2 linked regions of the Homo sapiens genome follow. The gene in region 1 interacts genetically with each later gene. Each region holds a gene or a part of one and is shown on either strand. Other genes may lie near its edges.

Region 1 (2,826 bases):
GGCCCCTCACTTCCTTGATACTGACCAGGCCCTGGGCCCTGTGTTTCTTCCGCCATCCCCAGCTCCCTCTGCCAAGGAGCCCTGGCCTCTCACTTCCTTGATACTGACCAGGCCCCGGGCCCTGCATTTCTTCTGCCTCAGGACCTGAACAAGAAGCAGACCCAGAAGGACTTGGAGTGTGCACTGCTGCTTCGGCAGCACGAGGCCACGCGGGAGCTGGAGCTGCGGCAGCTCCAGGCCGTGCAGCGCACGCGGGCTGAGCTCACCCGCCTGCAGCACCAGACGGAGCTGGGCAACCAGCTGGAGTACAACAAGCGGCGTGAGCAAGAGTTGCGGCAGAAGCATGCGGCCCAGGTTCGCCAGCAGCCCAAGAGCCTCAAAGTACGTGCAGGCCAGCGCCCCCCGGGCCTTCCACTCCCCATTCCTGGGGCTCTGGGCCCACCCAACACAGGCACCCCTATAGAACAGCAGCCCTGCTCACCTGGCCAGGAGGCAGTCCTGGACCAAAGAATGCTTGGCGAGGAGGAGGAAGCAGTTGGAGAGAGAAGGATTCTGGGAAAGGAAGGGGCCACTTTGGAGCCCAAGCAGCAGAGGATTCTGGGGGAAGAATCAGGAGCCCCTAGTCCCAGTCCACAAAAACATGGGAGCCTGGTTGATGAGGAAGTTTGGGGTCTGCCTGAGGAGATAGAGGAGCTTAGGGTGCCCTCCCTTGTACCCCAGGAGAGGAGCATTGTTGGCCAGGAGGAGGCTGGGACATGGAGCTTGTGGGGGAAGGAGGATGAGAGTCTTCTGGATGAGGAGTTTGAGCTTGGCTGGGTCCAGGGCCCAGCACTGACTCCCGTCCCTGAGGAGGAGGAAGAAGAGGAAGAGGGGGCTCCGATTGGGACCCCTAGGGATCCTGGAGATGGTTGTCCTTCCCCCGACATCCCTCCTGAACCCCCTCCAACACACCTGAGGCCCTGCCCTGCCAGCCAGCTCCCTGGACTCCTGTCCCATGGCCTCCTGGCCGGCCTCTCCTTTGCAGTGGGGTCCTCCTCTGGCCTCCTGCCCCTCCTGCTGCTGCTGCTGCTTCCATTGCTGGCAGCCCAGGGTGGGGGTGGCCTGCAGGCAGCGCTGCTGGCCCTTGAGGTGGGGCTGGTGGGTCTGGGGGCCTCCTACCTGCTCCTTTGTACAGCCCTGCACCTGCCCTCCAGTCTTTTCCTACTCCTGGCCCAGGGTACCGCACTGGGGGCCGTCCTGGGCCTGAGCTGGCGCCGAGGCCTCATGGGTGTTCCCCTGGGCCTTGGAGCTGCCTGGCTCTTAGCTTGGCCAGGCCTAGCTCTACCTCTGGTGGCTATGGCAGCGGGGGGCAGATGGGTGCGGCAGCAGGGCCCCCGGGTGCGCCGGGGCATATCTCGACTCTGGTTGCGGGTTCTGCTGCGCCTGTCACCCATGGCCTTCCGGGCCCTGCAGGGCTGTGGGGCTGTGGGGGACCGGGGTCTGTTTGCACTGTACCCCAAAACCAACAAGGATGGCTTCCGCAGCCGCCTGCCCGTCCCTGGGCCCCGGCGGCGTAATCCCCGCACCACCCAACACCCATTAGCTCTGTTGGCAAGGGTCTGGGTCCTGTGCAAGGGCTGGAACTGGCGTCTGGCACGGGCCAGCCAGGGTTTAGCATCCCACTTGCCCCCGTGGGCCATCCACACACTGGCCAGCTGGGGCCTGCTTCGGGGTGAACGGCCCACCCGAATCCCCCGGCTACTACCACGCAGCCAGCGCCAGCTAGGGCCCCCTGCCTCCCGCCAGCCACTGCCAGGGACTCTAGCCGGGCGGAGGTCACGCACCCGCCAGTCCCGGGCCCTGCCCCCCTGGAGGTAGCTGACTCCAGCCCTTCCAGCCCAAATCTAGAGCATTGAGCACTTTATCTCCCACGACTCAGTGAAGTTTCTCCAGTCCCTAGTCCTCTCTTTTCACCCACCTTCCTCAGTTTGCTCACTTACCCCAGGCCCAGCCCTTCGGACCTCTAGACAGGCAGCCTCCTCAGCTGTGGAGTCCAGCAGTCACTCTGTGTTCTCCTGGCGCTCCTCCCCTAAGTTATTGCTGTTCGCCCGCTGTGTGTGCTCATCCTCACCCTCATTGACTCAGGCCTGGGGCCAGGGGTGGTGGAGGGTGGGAAGAGTCATGTTTTTTTTCTCCTCTTTGATTTTGTTTTTCTGTCTCCCTTCCAACCTGTCCCCTTCCCCCCACCAAAAAAAGAAAAAGACAAACACAAATAAAATATCTGAGCGGAACTGTGCCTTTGGCCCAGGCTGCCTCTGTCTGCTTTGTCCTGCCGCCTAGCCTCCCCGGTATGCCCCCAGGCTGACCCTCGGCCCGGCTCCATGACCTCTTCACCCCATCTCCGTTATCTCAGCCCCCTCACTCCTCCAGCCTCATGCTCTCTGCCTTCATAGCTTCATTGCACCATGACCACCACCGGCTCTGGGGTCTGGGCCCCTGTAGAACTTCACCGAACTTCTTGGTCCCACAGAGCGCCTGTTTGCGGGTTCCTTCCAGAGGTCTTAGTTTCCAGGCCCTTGGTCTCCTCATCCCTTGCCTTTTCTCCCAACCATGGCTGCAGGGGACCAAATTGCTCTCCTGCATCAGGCATTACCCTAGTGGGTTGGGGGACGGGGCTGCAGACCCTCCACAGTAGGGGGTGCTGAGCTGGGGGCAACCAGGCGGAGTATGAAGGCTGTGGCAGCAGGATTGAGTGTGGGCCTGGAGTGGGAGCTGAGTGTGTGAGGGGCCGGGCTGGAATGCGGATCTGGTCAGGGTGGTAGCTGCTGGCCGGTTGAACTTGTCAGG
Region 2 (3,795 bases), on another chromosome or scaffold:
GTGTCCCACCATGCCTGCTAATTTTTTAAATTTTGTAGATATGTGGGTCTTGCCATGTTGCCCAGGGTAGTCTTGAACTCCTGGGCTCAAGCAATCCTCCGGCCTTGGCCTCCCAAAGTGCTGGGATTACAGGCATGAGCCACCACACCCGGCCATTTCCGGATCTTAATATTTTATGTTCTTTTTTTTTTTTTTTTTTGAGATGGAGTCTCGCTCTGTTGCCCAGGCTGGAGTGCAGTGGCGCGATCTCGACTCACTGCAAGCTCCACCTCCCGGGTTCTCGCCATTCTCTTGCCTCAGCCTCCTGAGTAGCTGGGACTACAGATGCCCGCCACCATGCCCAGATTTTTTTTTGTATTTTTTAGTAGAGACAGGGTTTCGACGTGTTAGCCAGGATGGTGTCGATCTCCTGACCTTGTGATCCGCCCGCCTCGGCCTCCCAAAGTGCTGGGATTACAGGCGTGAGCCACCGCACCCAGCCTTAATATTTTATGTTCTAAGATCCTGCTTCTGAGATGCTAGGATTGGGAGCTAACACACTACGATGGGAAGATTTTCTGGTCCTGAAACCAGATGTAGGATTACCAAGTGTTATCAGTTCTGATCCCAAGCTTCTGTTTGTCAAACATCCTGAGATCCCAAGGATCTATAATAATACTGTTCAAAGACTTAAGTCCCTAAAAGTCCTTGATCCCAGGATTCAGCGTTTTGCAGATCCTGTGACATTAGAGTCTACAGGTTTAAGCTTCTGCGTTTTGAGGAGGCAGATGCCACCCACCTCCCACCCCTCAGGCCCTCTTCCCCCATCGGTGGGCAGATGTTTTGGGGGAGGGCTGGGAATGGGGTTCCCACGGGGCTGACACCTTGGCCTCTTGCTGCGGCACCTTACTCTAGGCACAATGACAACAAGAGCTTCCTGGTGTGGGTGAACGAGGAGGATCACCTCCGGGTCATCTCCATGGAGAAGGGGGGCAACATGAAGGAGGTTTTCCGCCGCTTCTGCGTAGGGCTGCAGAAGGTGGGTGTCTGCCCTTAGCTGCTGACTTCTGACTCCACCTTGAACGCCCCACCTGCTTTCCGAGGCCCCGCCCCTTCCCCTATACTAAGCCCTGCCCCACCCATTTTCCAGGGCCCTGCCCCCCGGACCTGGCTCCACCCCATGCCAAACCCCGCCCCCCAAAACTAGCCCCACCCGCTTTTCAGGGCCCCGCCCCTGGACCCAGCTCCACCCTATGCCCAAGCCCCGCCCGTAAGGATCCGCCTTCAGGCCGGGAGCGGTGGCTCACGCCTGTAATCCCAGCACTTTGGGAGGCTGAGGAGGGTCAGGAGTTCAAGACCAGCCTGGCCAACATGGTGAAACCCCGTCTCTATACTAAAAAATTAATAAATAAATAAATTATCCAGGCGTAGTGGCGCGCGCCTGTAGTCCCAGCTACTCGGGAGGCTGAGGCAGGAGAATCGCTTGAACCTGGGAGGCAGAGGTTGCAGTGAGACGAGATCACGCCATTGCACTCCAGCCTGGGTGACACAGAGAGACTCTGGAAAAAAAAAAAAAAAAAACCCGCCTTCAAAGCGTTCTTAGTCCCCGCCCCTCAAAATCCTGCCTTGGTCCCCATTGTCTAGCCAGCACCCTCGGAATCTCCTACCTCCCTGTTCCCCTCAGAATCCCACCTCCACCACGTTCCCACGCCCTGTCCCTCCGGACCCTGTCCATGTTGCGGGTGCATTTGGGGGTGCCTGCCGGCGCTGACCCCTGGTCCTCTCTCTGAACCTCAGATTGAGGAGATCTTTAAGAAAGCTGGCCACCCCTTCATGTGGAACCAGCACCTGGGCTACGTGCTCACCTGCCCATCCAACCTGGGCACTGGGCTGCGTGGAGGCGTGCATGTGAAGCTGGCGCACCTGAGCAAGCACCCCAAGTTCGAGGAGATCCTCACCCGCCTGCGTCTGCAGAAGAGGGGTACAGGTACGGCTCCCACATCCTTTGCACCACGACGGAGGGGGAGCGAGGGCCCTTTGCAGGGATGCAAGGAGAGGTGCGACATCCCTGCGAGTTCTGGGGATCCGGCAAGGGCTGACCCTCTGTGAGCTTGCATTTCTTCCTCTGTAAAATGGGTGTCAATATGCCTATGTGATAGGAGTCAATGTGGGATTTTCATGATTATATAATATGCATTGCACATGCCCTTGGACCTCCCTCGGGGCCTCAGTTTCCCCATTTATAAAGCGAGGAGTGGTCAGGATTCGACCCTAGGCCGCCTGGCTCCAGAACCCACTCTCTTACCCACTATACTATGTTTGATAACTGAGTGGCGTGGTACCCCATCTGAAGTCAGAGACTCGTGAGCTCACGAATGAACAGGCATTACCTGTGTGCAGGTAACCTGTTACACAGTAGGCACTCACTACATGCGGCTGTTGCATTTGGCACGGGGGCCACGTCCCAGCCCCTCTGCACCTTCGCTGCCTCTTCACGCCCCTGTCCCTTGCTCCCACAGGTGGCGTGGACACAGCTGCCGTGGGCTCAGTATTTGACGTGTCCAACGCTGATCGGCTGGGCTCGTCCGAAGTAGAACAGGTGCAGCTGGTGGTGGATGGTGTGAAGCTCATGGTGGAAATGGAGAAGAAGTTGGAGAAAGGCCAGTCCATTGACGACATGATCCCCGCCCAGAAGTAGGCGCCTGCCCACCTGCCACCGACTGCTGGAACCCAGCCAGTGGGAGGGCCTGGCCCACCAGAGTCCTGCTCCCTCACTCCTCGCCCCGCCCCCTGTCCCAGAGTCCCACCTGGGGGCTCTCTCCACCCTTCTCAGAGTTCCAGTTTCAACCAGAGTTCCAACCAATGGGCTCCATCCTCTGGATTCTGGCCAATGAAATATCTCCCTGGCAGGGTCCTCTTCTTTTCCCAGAGCTCCACCCCAACCAGGAGCTCTAGTTAATGGAGAGCTCCCAGCACACTCGGAGCTTGTGCTTTGTCTCCACGCAAAGCGATAAATAAAAGCATTGGTGGCCTTAGCTTTGTGCGATAGTTATTGAGGGAGGACGTGCAATTGGCCACTGTGTGGTCTCAGAGTGGTTTGTCCTGTCTAGGCATGTACTAAACATGTCTTATCCCGGGTCTAAAATGAGGCAAAGTTAGGTCACAGAATCTAGTCCAAAAATTAGAAGGCTCTATGGGGAATCTGAGACCCAGAGAGACACTGAGCCCAGTGTCACTCACCCAAAGCATGGGCCCTTTCCAACTATGGCTTTGAATTAGTCATGCTCAGATCTCAAACACGAGGTCCACGCTGGGGAGGAATGCAGCCAAACGAAATGTCTGAAACTTGAATTTAGCCCAACGGTCTCCAGTTTTGAGACCTCCCATGCAGCTCGTCACATCTACCTATATTCTGCTTCTCAGTGGCCTCCTTCTGTCCCGTCTGACTTCATCCCTCTGTAGCTGCTGCCAGTCCCTTACTTTCTCAAGAACCTGCCATGGCTCCCCATTTCTCCTAGAAAGCTTTTCTGTTATTTTGCAACTCAAGGCCACACTGAAATGCATACCATTTGCTGGAGGCTCACCTTTCCAGTTCTTTCCCCATTACTCCTCTGATTCTTTCACACCTGACACCCTCCAATTCCCACCTCAATGTCTTTGACCAAGCTGTTTCCCTCTCCAATCTGTGAGTCTGAGCATCCCCATGAAGTCTTTAGGGATAGGCCTTTTGGAGAACTCAGTCCCAGGAAGGAACAGGAAAGAGGTGTGGTAGAGCAATTGGTGGAGGGAGAAGAGTTAATAGAAGTCAAGCAGTAG

The links.
Region 2: changes in TAOK2 (region 1) and CKM together harm fitness less than expected from each alone (positive genetic interaction), as found in Homo sapiens cells (one large-scale study listed by BioGRID).

The regions. Positions count from the first base shown.
Region 1 is NC_000016.10:29,986,124-29,988,949, forward strand, and holds the end of TAOK2 (serine/threonine-protein kinase TAO2), read left to right. Parts: intron 1-141; coding exon 142-1,857; 3' UTR 1,858-2,235; downstream 2,236-2,826. UniProt on the Homo sapiens protein: Serine/threonine-protein kinase involved in different processes such as membrane blebbing and apoptotic bodies formation DNA damage response and MAPK14/p38 MAPK stress-activated MAPK cascade.
Region 2 is NC_000019.10:45,305,632-45,309,426, reverse strand, and holds the end of CKM (creatine kinase M-type), read left to right. Parts: intron 1-894; coding exon 895-1,018; intron 1,019-1,776; coding exon 1,777-1,966; intron 1,967-2,498; coding exon 2,499-2,677; 3' UTR 2,678-3,014; downstream 3,015-3,795. UniProt on the Homo sapiens protein: Reversibly catalyzes the transfer of phosphate between ATP and various phosphogens (e.g. creatine phosphate).